Regions from separate parts of the Homo sapiens genome. Here region 1 is linked to region 2. The links come from fine-mapping of genetic effects on gene expression. Tissue or cell type: tibial artery. Region 2 holds a variant in brackets; the other region holds the start of a gene. All regions are shown on one strand. Distances are from middle to middle. Region 1 holds the start of CARMAL (coronary artery disease region linked MFGE8 regulatory lncRNA). Region 2 overlaps CARMAL (coronary artery disease region linked MFGE8 regulatory lncRNA).

Evidence for each region. PIP is the estimated chance that this variant, and not a neighbour inherited with it, causes the effect.
Region 1: CARMAL starts here. The variant in region 2 is fine-mapped to the expression of CARMAL in tibial artery (GTEx, PIP 0.92).

The regions. Positions count from the first base shown.
Region 1 is chr15:89,038,557-89,043,932 of GRCh38, forward strand. It overlaps CARMAL (coronary artery disease region linked MFGE8 regulatory lncRNA), which reads left to right and starts at 2,442. Exons shown (of 4, transcript NR_183882.1): 1 at 2,442-2,744. It also overlaps a transcript of ABHD2 not described here.
Region 2 is chr15:89,073,247-89,078,622 of GRCh38, forward strand. CARMAL (coronary artery disease region linked MFGE8 regulatory lncRNA) reads left to right here. Exons shown (of 4, transcript NR_183882.1): 3 at 2,050-2,138. It also overlaps a transcript of ABHD2 not described here. Among named protein-coding and RNA genes, the nearest start is that of ABHD2, 13 kb to the right of the region's middle. The variant C/T (reference allele first, on the strand shown) is at 2,082.

The sequences.
Region 1 (5,376 bases), 35 kb before region 2:
GCTCTCCCTCAAGTCAGTGGCCACCAGAGCCTTACCTGCCAGCCCTGTCTGCCACCATGGCTGCTGGGCCTCCCTCAAGCTTATTTTTGATGTCTATATTGTGGGTCAAATTATAAGAGGCTTTAAAAGGATGAGTGTAAATGGAGGTGTCTGTCCCCTAATGGGTGCCCAGAGGAATTTTTCCATGTCAGGTAAGGATACCTTTTTTTCTGAGGCAGGGTCTCACTCTGTCTCCCAGGCTGGAGTGCAAAGGGCGATCACAGCTCACTGCAGCCTCGACCTCCCAGGCTCAAGCAATCCTCCCACCTTTGCTTCCTGAGTAGCTGGGACTACAGGTGCTTGCCATCACAGCCAGCTAATTTTTTTTTTTTTTTTTTGTATGTTTTTGTAGAGATGGGATTTCACCATGTTGCCCAGGCTGGTCTTAAACTCAGCTCAAGCTATCTGGCCCCCTCTGCCTCCCAAAGTGCTGGGATTACAGGCGTGAGCCACTGCGCCTGCCCACCCGCCCCCCACCCCCCGACTTCTTTCTTTTTAAACATTTTTGTAAACTTCTCTCTTTTTAAACATGCACACTCACTCCACCCAAGCCTCTGAAGACAGAATTCTTGACCCTATTGCACTTACGATCTAATAGAAGAGACACAGATATAATATATTATGGTTTGATATGTTCACTGCTAGAAGTTTATGCCAAGTGCTGCTAGAACATAAATAATGGAGCAGTTCATCTTTCCTGGGGATAGGAGCCAGAGCCACAGTGAGCGCTGTTGACTGGGGTCTTAAAATTAAGCTGCATATGCCAAGCAGGGAAAGCGGGAAAGAGCATTGCCAGCAAAGGGAGCAGTATGATCAAAATTCCAAAGCAGTGCGTGCCAAAGGGCGTGTCATGAGCTGGAAAAGGTATGGTAGCACTGGTCAAGATTGCAATTTCAGTGTTCTTTTTTTTTTTTTAATTGAGACAGAGTCTCACTCTGTCACCCAGGCTGGAGTGCAGTGGCGCGATCTCAGCTCGCTGCAACTTCCACCTCCTGGGTTCAAGCAGTTTTCCTGCCTCAGCCTCCGGAGTAGCTGGGATTACAGGCACCCGCCACCACACCCAGCTGATTTTTGTATTTTTAGTAGAGACGGGGTTTCACCGTGTTGGCCAGGCTGGTCTCGAACTCCTGACCTCAAGTGATCCTCTCATCTTGGCCTCCAAAAGTGCTGGGATTACAGGCATGAGTCATGGCACCCGGCCAGTTTCAGGGTTTGTTTGAAATGATCACTTAATGAGTAACTGTCTCCCCTACTAGACTGTAAACTCTATGAGGGCCGGGGCTGGGTCTGTGTTCAACCACACTATGCCCCAGTGCTGAGCATGTCATGGCATTCAAATAAATATCCGTTGGATGGATGAATGGATGGAAGAAAGGAGGGATGAAATTTTTTAATTAAGAGATGTGTGCCAATTTTGGCAAATTTGTCAAAAATTTTGAAGAAAGTTTTTCTCAGTGAATATGAATATATTCCACTTGTGAATCTATTCACAGACTATGGGCTTGCTGGAACCTAAGAGTCATCGAGTAGTTTAGACTTCTTATCAATAGATTTTTATTTATATTCATAAGAGTATATTCTTGAATATATTTACTAATGCATTCATTAACAGTATATATTCGTATTCATTGAAAACATTAAAGAAAAAATTCTTTAGAATGGACAAATCAGAATATTTCACTTTTTTTTTTTTTTTTTTTTTGAGGCAGAGTCTGGCTCTGTTGCCGGGCTGGAGTGCAGTGGCACGATCTTGGCTCACTACAACCTCTGCCTCCTGGATTCAAGCGATTCTCCTGCCTCAGCCTCCCAAGAAGCTGGGACTACAGGTGCGTGCCACCACACCCAGATAATTTTTGTATTTTTAGGAGAGGCGGGGTTTCACCATGTTGGTCAGGGTGGTCTTGATCTCTTGACCTTGTGATCCGCCCGCCTTGGCCTCCCAAAGTGTTGGGATTACAGGCGTGAGACACAGTGCCCAGCCTAGAATATTTCATAAATGTAGCAAATTGGCTTTAGGGAACTTTTTCTGCTTCCAGCATTCAGCAGCTATTTGAAGGGTTTTGGAAGCAAAGGAATGGAGGGAGACAGGACGGCACCCTGAGGGAGACGCAGGGCTGAACGGAGCTGTTCGGGGATAGCTGTGGCTTGAGTGGGTCTGTTGGCTGAAAGGAGGGATTCGTTGAAGAAGGAGCAATGGACGAGGTGAGAGAGAGGATACTGGATGGAACCAGGTTTCAGAGGAGGCTGATGGGAGAATGTGAGGAGCACCAAAGCGAGCCTTAGGAAAAAGAAGTTCAGACAGACAGACACTTCGGTAAACCACAGCTCCCAGTATTCACCACTGTGTGTAGTCTCCTCCCACACTGACTCTGGGCTTGGTCAGCTGACAAGCTTTGGCCAATAGGGCTCTAGCAAGAAGATGCCAGCAGAGGCTTGAAAAGTGCCTACCCCTGGCCTGGGATGCTTCCTCCTGGGATGCTCCCACTTGGAACCCAACTATTGTGCTGCAGAAGTTTAACTTAACTGTGTAAGGAGGCCAAGAGGAGGCCCTGGCTGCCAGCCAGCATCAACTTCCAGTGACGTGAGTGTGCCATTCTGGAACTGGATCCTGCAGCCTCGGTGGAGCAGCCTCAGCTGATGCCATGTGGAACAGAGATGAACTGCCGCTGCCGAGCTCTGCCCACGTTGCAGAATCATGAGCAAATGTGAGTTTTGTGGTTTTAAGCCACGAAGTTTAGAGGTGGTTTGCAATAGAATGGAGGGGACTGCTTTTCTTCTGAGTTTCGGATTGAATTCTGCTTTACTATAACTTATTTATTATATATTTGTAACAATTCTGTCTCCACCCATCAGTATTCACCCGCCTAAGGGCACAGAGGCACCAGGACTCTGGGAACCTTCCTTGATGTCTGGATCTACTGCAGTGACTCTTAGTGCAGCAGTTAAAAGCCAGACTGTCCTAGTGTGAATCCGGCCTTGGCTATTCATTGGCTGGAAGACCTGAGCCAAGCCTGTGCCTCTGTCCGGGCATCTGGGTAGATGTCCTAGGAGTCCACTAAGAAGAAAACTGAGGCCAGTGAGAGGCAGAGTTGAGGCAAGGCGCAACTCTATTCCCCTGCTGGGGAAAGCAGCTCTGCCCCTCGGTCTGCCCTGCTGACCAGGCATGACACACCACCTCATCAGCAGGGCCCACGGCACCCAGACCTGGCCTGGAGGGGCTGAGACAGCATTGCTAGGGGTCAGATGGTCACAGAATAAGCAACCTGAGACCTGGAAGGGCATAAGCATCTTCCCCTACCTGGAATCAGAGGCATAGCTGAGGTCAAACATCAGGGCAGGAGGGCCTGGAGGGGGTCGGAACCAGAGGTCACCCGGGTGTTTGGTTGGGAGGGGCGTCCATCTTTATCTTATCCATCACCATCACCATTATTGCTAAACATACAGTGAGCATTACTATGTGCCGAGCACTCATCTAAGCCCTTTATACTTCTAAACTTCTAAACTTATCCTCATAGCCACTTTTGGACACCAGTACATTATTGTCTCCACATCATAGCTGAGGACTCAAGGGACAGAGGGGTTTTGTAACCTGCTGAAGAACATGCAGCAGCTGCATAGCATAGCCAGGATTTGAACCCTGGCAGCCTGGATCCAGAGCCTGCTTAGGACCACTCAGTGACACTATTGAGGATTTCAGCCACCTTCTCCATAACACTATAGTCTTGCTTTTACCCTACTCCCTCAAACATCTTTTTACCAGGTCAACATTAGCTTAAAAACTGAGACACTTTTCTTATTGAAGCACATGCTCCAAGTACACCCTCTCTGCTCCCCAATTAGACCATCATTCCTGCCTTCCCTCCGTCTTATCTCTTCTAAATCCTTACACCGAGTGCCACCTCCTCCATGAAGATTTCCTGTCCTGGTTACTTCCCACCTGGAAATTTATACCTTCTCTCTTTCTTTTTTATTTCCTTTTCTTTCTTTCTTTCTTATTTATTTATTTATTTATTTATTTATTTATTTATTTATTTATTTTGGAGACTTTTTGTTTTTTCTTTTCTTTTTCGAGACAGAGTCTTGCTCTGTCGCCCAGACTGGAGTACAGTGGGGTGATCTTGGCTCACTCTAGCCTCTGCCTCCCGGGTTCAAGTGACTCTCATGCCTCAGCCTCCCAAGTAGCTGGGACTACAGGTGTGTGCCACAAAGCCTGGCTAATTTTTTTTTTCTTTTTTTCTTTTTTTGCATTTTTAGTAGAGGTAAGGTTTCACTGTGTTGGCCAGGCTGGCCTCAAGCTCCTGGCCTCAAGTGATCCACCCGCCTCAACTTCCCAAAGTGCTGGTATTACAGGCATAAGCCACGGCGCCCGGCCTATACCTTCTTTCTTAATTTGCCCAGCACCATTTGTTTCCTCCACTAGTACATATTCCACGGCTTGCCGTAATCTGCTTTGATGCCTATGCTGACCACTGGGATGAGCCCCAGGGGCCCTCCCTTCACCATTCTGACAAATGTTCTTCCCAAAACCATGGGAGTAGCTAGGAAAAGGTAACCAACAGGGCTGTGGAGAAGACAGACAGAAGTAAGACATACAGTCCCTCAGAAGGTGGCAGCCAACCCTGCCTGAGCTCTTCTAGCACCCTAGGGGGGCAAGTTTGCTTTCAGCAGAAGAGCTGGGGTTTGGGCTGGGCATGGTGGCTCATGCCTGTAGTCCCAGCTACTGAGGAGGCTGAGGTGGGAGGATTACTTTAGCCCAGGAATTCAAGGTTAGGGTGAGCTATCTTTGTGCCACTGCACTTCAGCCTGGGCAACAGATCAAGACCCTATCTCTTTTTTAAAGAAGAAGAAGAAGGAGGAGGAGGAGAAGGAGAAGGAGAAGGAGAGGAAGAAGGGGGAGGGGGAGGAAAAGAAAGAGGAAGGAGGAAGAGGAGGGAGGAGGGGAAGGGAAAGAGGAAGGAGGAGGAGAGGAAGAGGAAGAAAAGAAGAAGAGGAAGAAGGAGGAGGAGAGGAGGAGGAGACGAGGAGGCGGAAGGAGGAGGAGGAGGAGGAAGGAGAAGGAGGAGGAGGAGAGGGAGGAGGAGAAGGAGGAGGGGGAGGAGGAGGAGAGGAGGAGGAAGAGGAGGGAGAAGGAGGAGGGGGAGAAGGAGGAGGAGGAAGAGGAGAAGAAGAAGGAGGAGGAGGAGATCTAGAGTTGAAGGCAATCTACAAGGTATATCAGCTTGGGATAAATATTTTGATATATTCATCTATGAGTTTTGTTCCCCTCCTCTTTGTATTTTTCTCTTTTCTTTTTTTTTCCTTTTTTTAATTTTTTATTATTATTATACTTTAAGTTTT
Region 2 (5,376 bases):
ACCTAGGTGTGAGCTCAGACCTGATTAGCTAGAAACTTGTGTGGAATATCTGGGGAATCTGTAGTTTTTGAGACAGTCTTGCTCTGTTGCCCAGGCTGGAGTGCAGTGGTACGATCTTGGCTCACTGCAACTTCCGCCTCCTAGGTTCAAGCGATTCTCCTGCCTCAGCCTCCCAAGTAGCTAGGATTACAGGTGCCCACGACCATGCCTGGTAATTTTTTTGTATTTTTAGTAGAGACAGAATGTCACAATGTTGGCCAGGCTGGTCTCGAACTCCTGACCTCAGGTGATCCACCCTCCTCGGCCTCCCAAAGTGCTGGGATTACAGGGAATCTGTAGTTTTCTTTTAAAAAGTGTGTTAATTCTGATCATTGGCCAGGTTTGGAAACTAGTGGCCTCACGCACTACTTCTCAAACTCTAACCATGCGAAGCATCTCGGGATCTTGCCAAACACAAATTCTGATTCAGCAGGTCTTGGGGGACCTGAGGTTCTGCATTTCTAATATCATGATATCGATCCTACACATCTGTGGATCACACTGAGTAGCAAGATTTCAGAGCGGTGGGTCTCAAACTTGAACCACCTGGAGGGCTTATTAAACCGCATTGCTGGCCCCACCCCAGCGTTTTTTACTTAGTAGATTAGAACTACTCTTTTTGTTAGAAAAGCTCCCAGGTGTTTCCGATGCTGCTGCTGTGGGACCCACACTCAGAATCACAGTGCTAGGAGAAAGAGAAAGGGCTTTGGGATTGGCGGACCTGAATTAAATTCCATCCCAGCAAGCGGGTCACCTCTGACAGATTTCTTACATTGGTTCTCCACTCTGTACATAAGAGTCACCTGGGCCGGGCATGGTGGCTCACGCCTGTAATCCCAGCACTTTGGGAGGCCGAGGTAGGTGGATCACCTAAGGTCAAGAGTTCAAGACCAGCCTGACCAACATGGGGAAACCCAGTCTCTACTAAAAATACACAAAAATTATCAGGGCGTGATGGCGTGCTCCTGTAATCCCAGCTACTCCGGAGGCTGAGGCAGAAGAATGGCTTGAACCCGGGCGGTGGAGGTTGCAGTGAGCAGAGATCATGACACTGCATCCAGCCTGGGGGGCAAGAGCGAAACTCCATCTGAAAAAAAAAAAAAGAGTCACCTGAAGATCTTAAACAATTCTGATGCCAGTGTTCTTTCCCAGATCAAATTAAATCAGGAAAGCTGGGAGTGAGACCCAGATGCACTGTTTTAACAAATTCCTCAGGGGATTCTAATGTGTCACCAGGTGGAAAACCACTGAAACACTGAGCCATTCTCCTTATCTGAAAATGAAGACTGAGGATTAAGTGTAATGGAAATGAAAGAGTCTGGCATAAGGCAGGCACCCGAAGTGGCTGCTATGACTCCTCCACTTTCTAGCCTTCCCTTCCATCTTAGAGGAAGAGCTGCCCCCAGGCCTGTATGAGGTTCACCTGTCTCCAACCCCTCCCCAACAAAGAAAAGAACCTAGCTTGCTTTGTCATTTTCTTCTGGAACATTGCCTCTCACCAGCGTCTCAAGTCTACTTCCACTAGCTCTTCCCTATCTGTCTTTTAAAATATGCTGAACTCCGCCATCACTCAATCTTGCTGTCATCCTGTTTCCTGCCTCATATCACTGATAACATTTCTCAAGCAAGTGGCCTACAGCGGTACCAATTCCTGGCTTCTCCTTAACCCTCAGGAGAAAAAGCCTCATTCCCTTCACCCCCAACCCTAAACTTTAGTACAGAGACACCCAAAGTTTATCAAAAGTGTTTGAATGGCCAAACCCAGAGGCCTTTTCTCGGTAATTCTTCTCTTTCAATTCAATTGAACAAGCGTGTTTTAGTGCCTACTATCACTTGGGTACAAAGAGGAATAAGTCACCCTCCTTGGCCTCAAGGGGTAGGGCTTGGGAGCAGCTATCATGTAAGTAAGGCAATACCTGAGATAGGAACTGTGAGGTAAAGTGTGAATGATGTGGGTTCTGGCCCCCAGCACTCAGCCTTATCATAGGTCTTTGCATCTACATCTATTAGGAATGGATGATTGAATGGATGAATGAACTCCA[C/T]AGGAAGATGAGGAAAGCCTTTATGGATGGAGTGAGCTTGCAGCAGAGTCTCAAAGGGTGAGTAGAGTTTTCCAGGTAGGGAAGTGTGTGGGTGAGTAGTCCAGATCGAGTCAAAGGTATGGGAGCAAGGAACGGCCTGGTGCATTCCAGAAGTGTTGATAATGTCACTGGCTGACTCGGAGGGTGTGAAGGGGAGGAGAAGGAGGGAAGGCTAGAGAGGGAAGGTAGAAAGGAAGTGGAGGCGAAAAAAGATGCTGAAGGGCCTCCTGTACCTCCAGGAAGAGTTTGAATGTTATCATTTGGGCAATGGGAAGCTATTCCTGGGTCTTCACAAGGGAATCAGTTGGTGAGAACTGCTGTTTAGAAAGACAGCCCTGGCAGCAACTCAAGCGCTGGGAGAGGACAGAACCACCAGGGAAGAGGGTATGGGGAAGAAGAGCAGCAGGCTGAGGACAGGCCCAGGACTGAAGAATCAGGCACAGGAAGAAGAGTCCATGGGGCAGGCTGTGAAATGGACAAAGGAAAACCAGAGGTGCTTCCCAAGCAGGGGGCCTGGCCACCAGAGTCCCAAGCTACCAAGATGTCAAGTAAAGAAGAACTGAAAGCCAACTGCTGGATGCAGCAGTGAGTGGGGGTCACAGTGGCCTTTGCCAGAACTGTTCCAGTGGAGGAGTAGAGGAAGAGAGAAAACCACAGGAGCAGGCATCGCAAGCTCATGCTCCACCCACACGTCCCCTTTCTCCTTTAGTCCTGTGACCCATGTGCTTGCTCTCTTTCTCTCTCAAAGGAGATCCAAATTTAAAAATATGGAGCCAAGGGAATCAGTTCCTTTGCGAACACACTGAACGTTAGTTTTCTTCTTCTCTTTTGCAAAAACTTCTTATTTCACAAAATACTCAAACAAATAGACAAAGTACAGTGAAGTCCAGGTAGATATCATCCACCTTCAGCAATGATCAATCCATGGCCAATCTTTCATCTCAACACTCGTATCCTCATTCTTGTGGAGCAAATGCCAGACATTCTTTCATCCATCAGTATGTCAATATGTATCTCTGAAATAGAAGGACTTTTTATAAAACATAATCATAATATAATTAATATTCATTCCCCAATTGTTTTGTTATTGTCTTTTACAGTTTAATTTTTGTTTTGTTTTGTTTCGTTTCTTTTTGAGACAGGATCTTGCTCTGTTACCCAGGCTGGAGTGCAGTGGTGCGATCATGACCCATTGCAGCCTCTACCTCCTGGGCTCAGGTGATCTTCCCACCTCAGCCTCCCAAGTAGCTGGGACTACAGGTGCATGCCACCATGTCCAGCTACTTTTTTGTATTTTTGTAGAGATGAGGTCTCACCATGTTGCCCAGGCCAGTCTCAAACTCCTGGGCTCAAGTGATCCACTTGCCCCAGCCTTCCAAAGTGCTAGGATTACAGGCATGATCCATAATACCCAGCTACGGTTTGTTTTCATTTGGATGCTAATAAGACCCATACATTCCATTTGGTTGATCTATCTCTTCAATTTCTTTTAAATTTATAATTTTATAAGGTCCCCTTCCACATTTTTCTTTGTGGAAGAGGAGAAAAGACCCTTGTTCTCTGGATCACTCTGTGGTTAAGGGGGTAGGTCCTCAAATCAGATGCCCTGGTTCTATTTTGCTTTCTTGTTTTTTAGTACTTTTTGTTTGTTACCTACACACAGAAAAGTACATGAATCATAAGTGAGCAGCTTGATGAATTTTCATAAGTGAACACACCTGTGTAACCACCACCCAGCTCAGGAACAGGGCATCACTGGCACCCAAGAACCCCCTCTCAGGCCCTTTCCCAGTCTCTACCACCTCACAAAGGTCAGGTGACTTTTTCACACCACAGCCATGTGTTACCTCTTTTTGAACTTTATATAAATAAAATCATAGCATACATTTCTTGGATGACTGGCTTCTTTCACTCACCTTTATGCTGGTGGCATGCTTATCGTAATGATTTGTTCATTCCCAATGCTGCATAGTATTCCATTGAATATGAATGTTCTACAATCTGTTTATCCATTCTAGTGTTGATGGACATTTGGACAGTTTACAATCTTAAGCTATTACGAATGGTGCTATTGTGAATGTTATTGTCCGTGTGTTTCTTTGGGTACATACTTAAGAATGAGAATTATGCATGCTCATGTTGCCAAGGTTTTAATTTTGGGTTTACTTAATATCACTTTTGTGACCTCAAGCACATTATTTTACCTCTCTGGCCTCAGTTTCTTAATCTGTAAAACAGGCATAATCATATTCACCCTGTGGAGTTATTGGGAGGATTAAATATTTAAAAAAATCTAAAACTCTTAGAATCGTGCTTGTCTCTTAGTAAGGGTTTTATAAATGTTAGCTGTCAACCCTTCCTCCCTTTGTGGTGGTAACTTCTCAAGCTCCTTCACTGTTTTTCTCCTCCTGCCAAGTTTCATTCTCCCAAGTTCAAGTTAACCTGGTCTGCTTTTCTTTCTCTCTGAAACTTGTCTATGCCTATGACTTCCATTATCTTGTACTGTGGACAGCTTTTGCAACGTGTTACCTAGAAACTATGACTCCAAATCCCCTTGTCTACAAAACTCAGCCTCTCCCCTGCTTACCAATGCTCCCTTTCTAGTAATGATGTCATATTTTCCCTTTCCCTTGAATATATGTGTCACCAAAATCTCAACAGATCTAAAGTAAATTTACCTTTCTCTCCCATATTAGAACCACCTTGGGATCATCTCTGACCCTTCTCTCTTTCTTGCACCCCATATTTAATCTGTGGGGAAGTCCTGAAGAATCTATGCTCACATCACTGTTATTCTTTTCTTTTTACTTCCACTGTCTAGTTCAGGCCCTTAACAACTTACATTGAAACTAATGCAATAACCTGTTATCTCTTCTACCTGGCTCCAACCTCTCCTATTTCTAATTTTCTCTGAACATTGCCTCCAGATTAATTGGACTAAAATATGGCTTCATAATAAATCATCATGATAGGGCATATAACTGTGAAAAGAAAATAAAGCCTTGGGACCCCAAACTCACTATGTCAAAGGGAAAAATTAAGCTTGGAAACTGAGTCACACAAAAACTGCCTTCCTTTTGCTCCTAAACAGATCGTTGCATTTGGATATTTGGACTGTTTACAACCTTAAGCTATTACAAATGGCGCTATTATGAACGTTATTGTCCATGTTTTTCTCTGGGTACTTAGTTAGGAATGAGTATGTGATAACGGAAGGCCATCTATCTCCCCAGGTGGCCTTCCTCACAATTGCTTA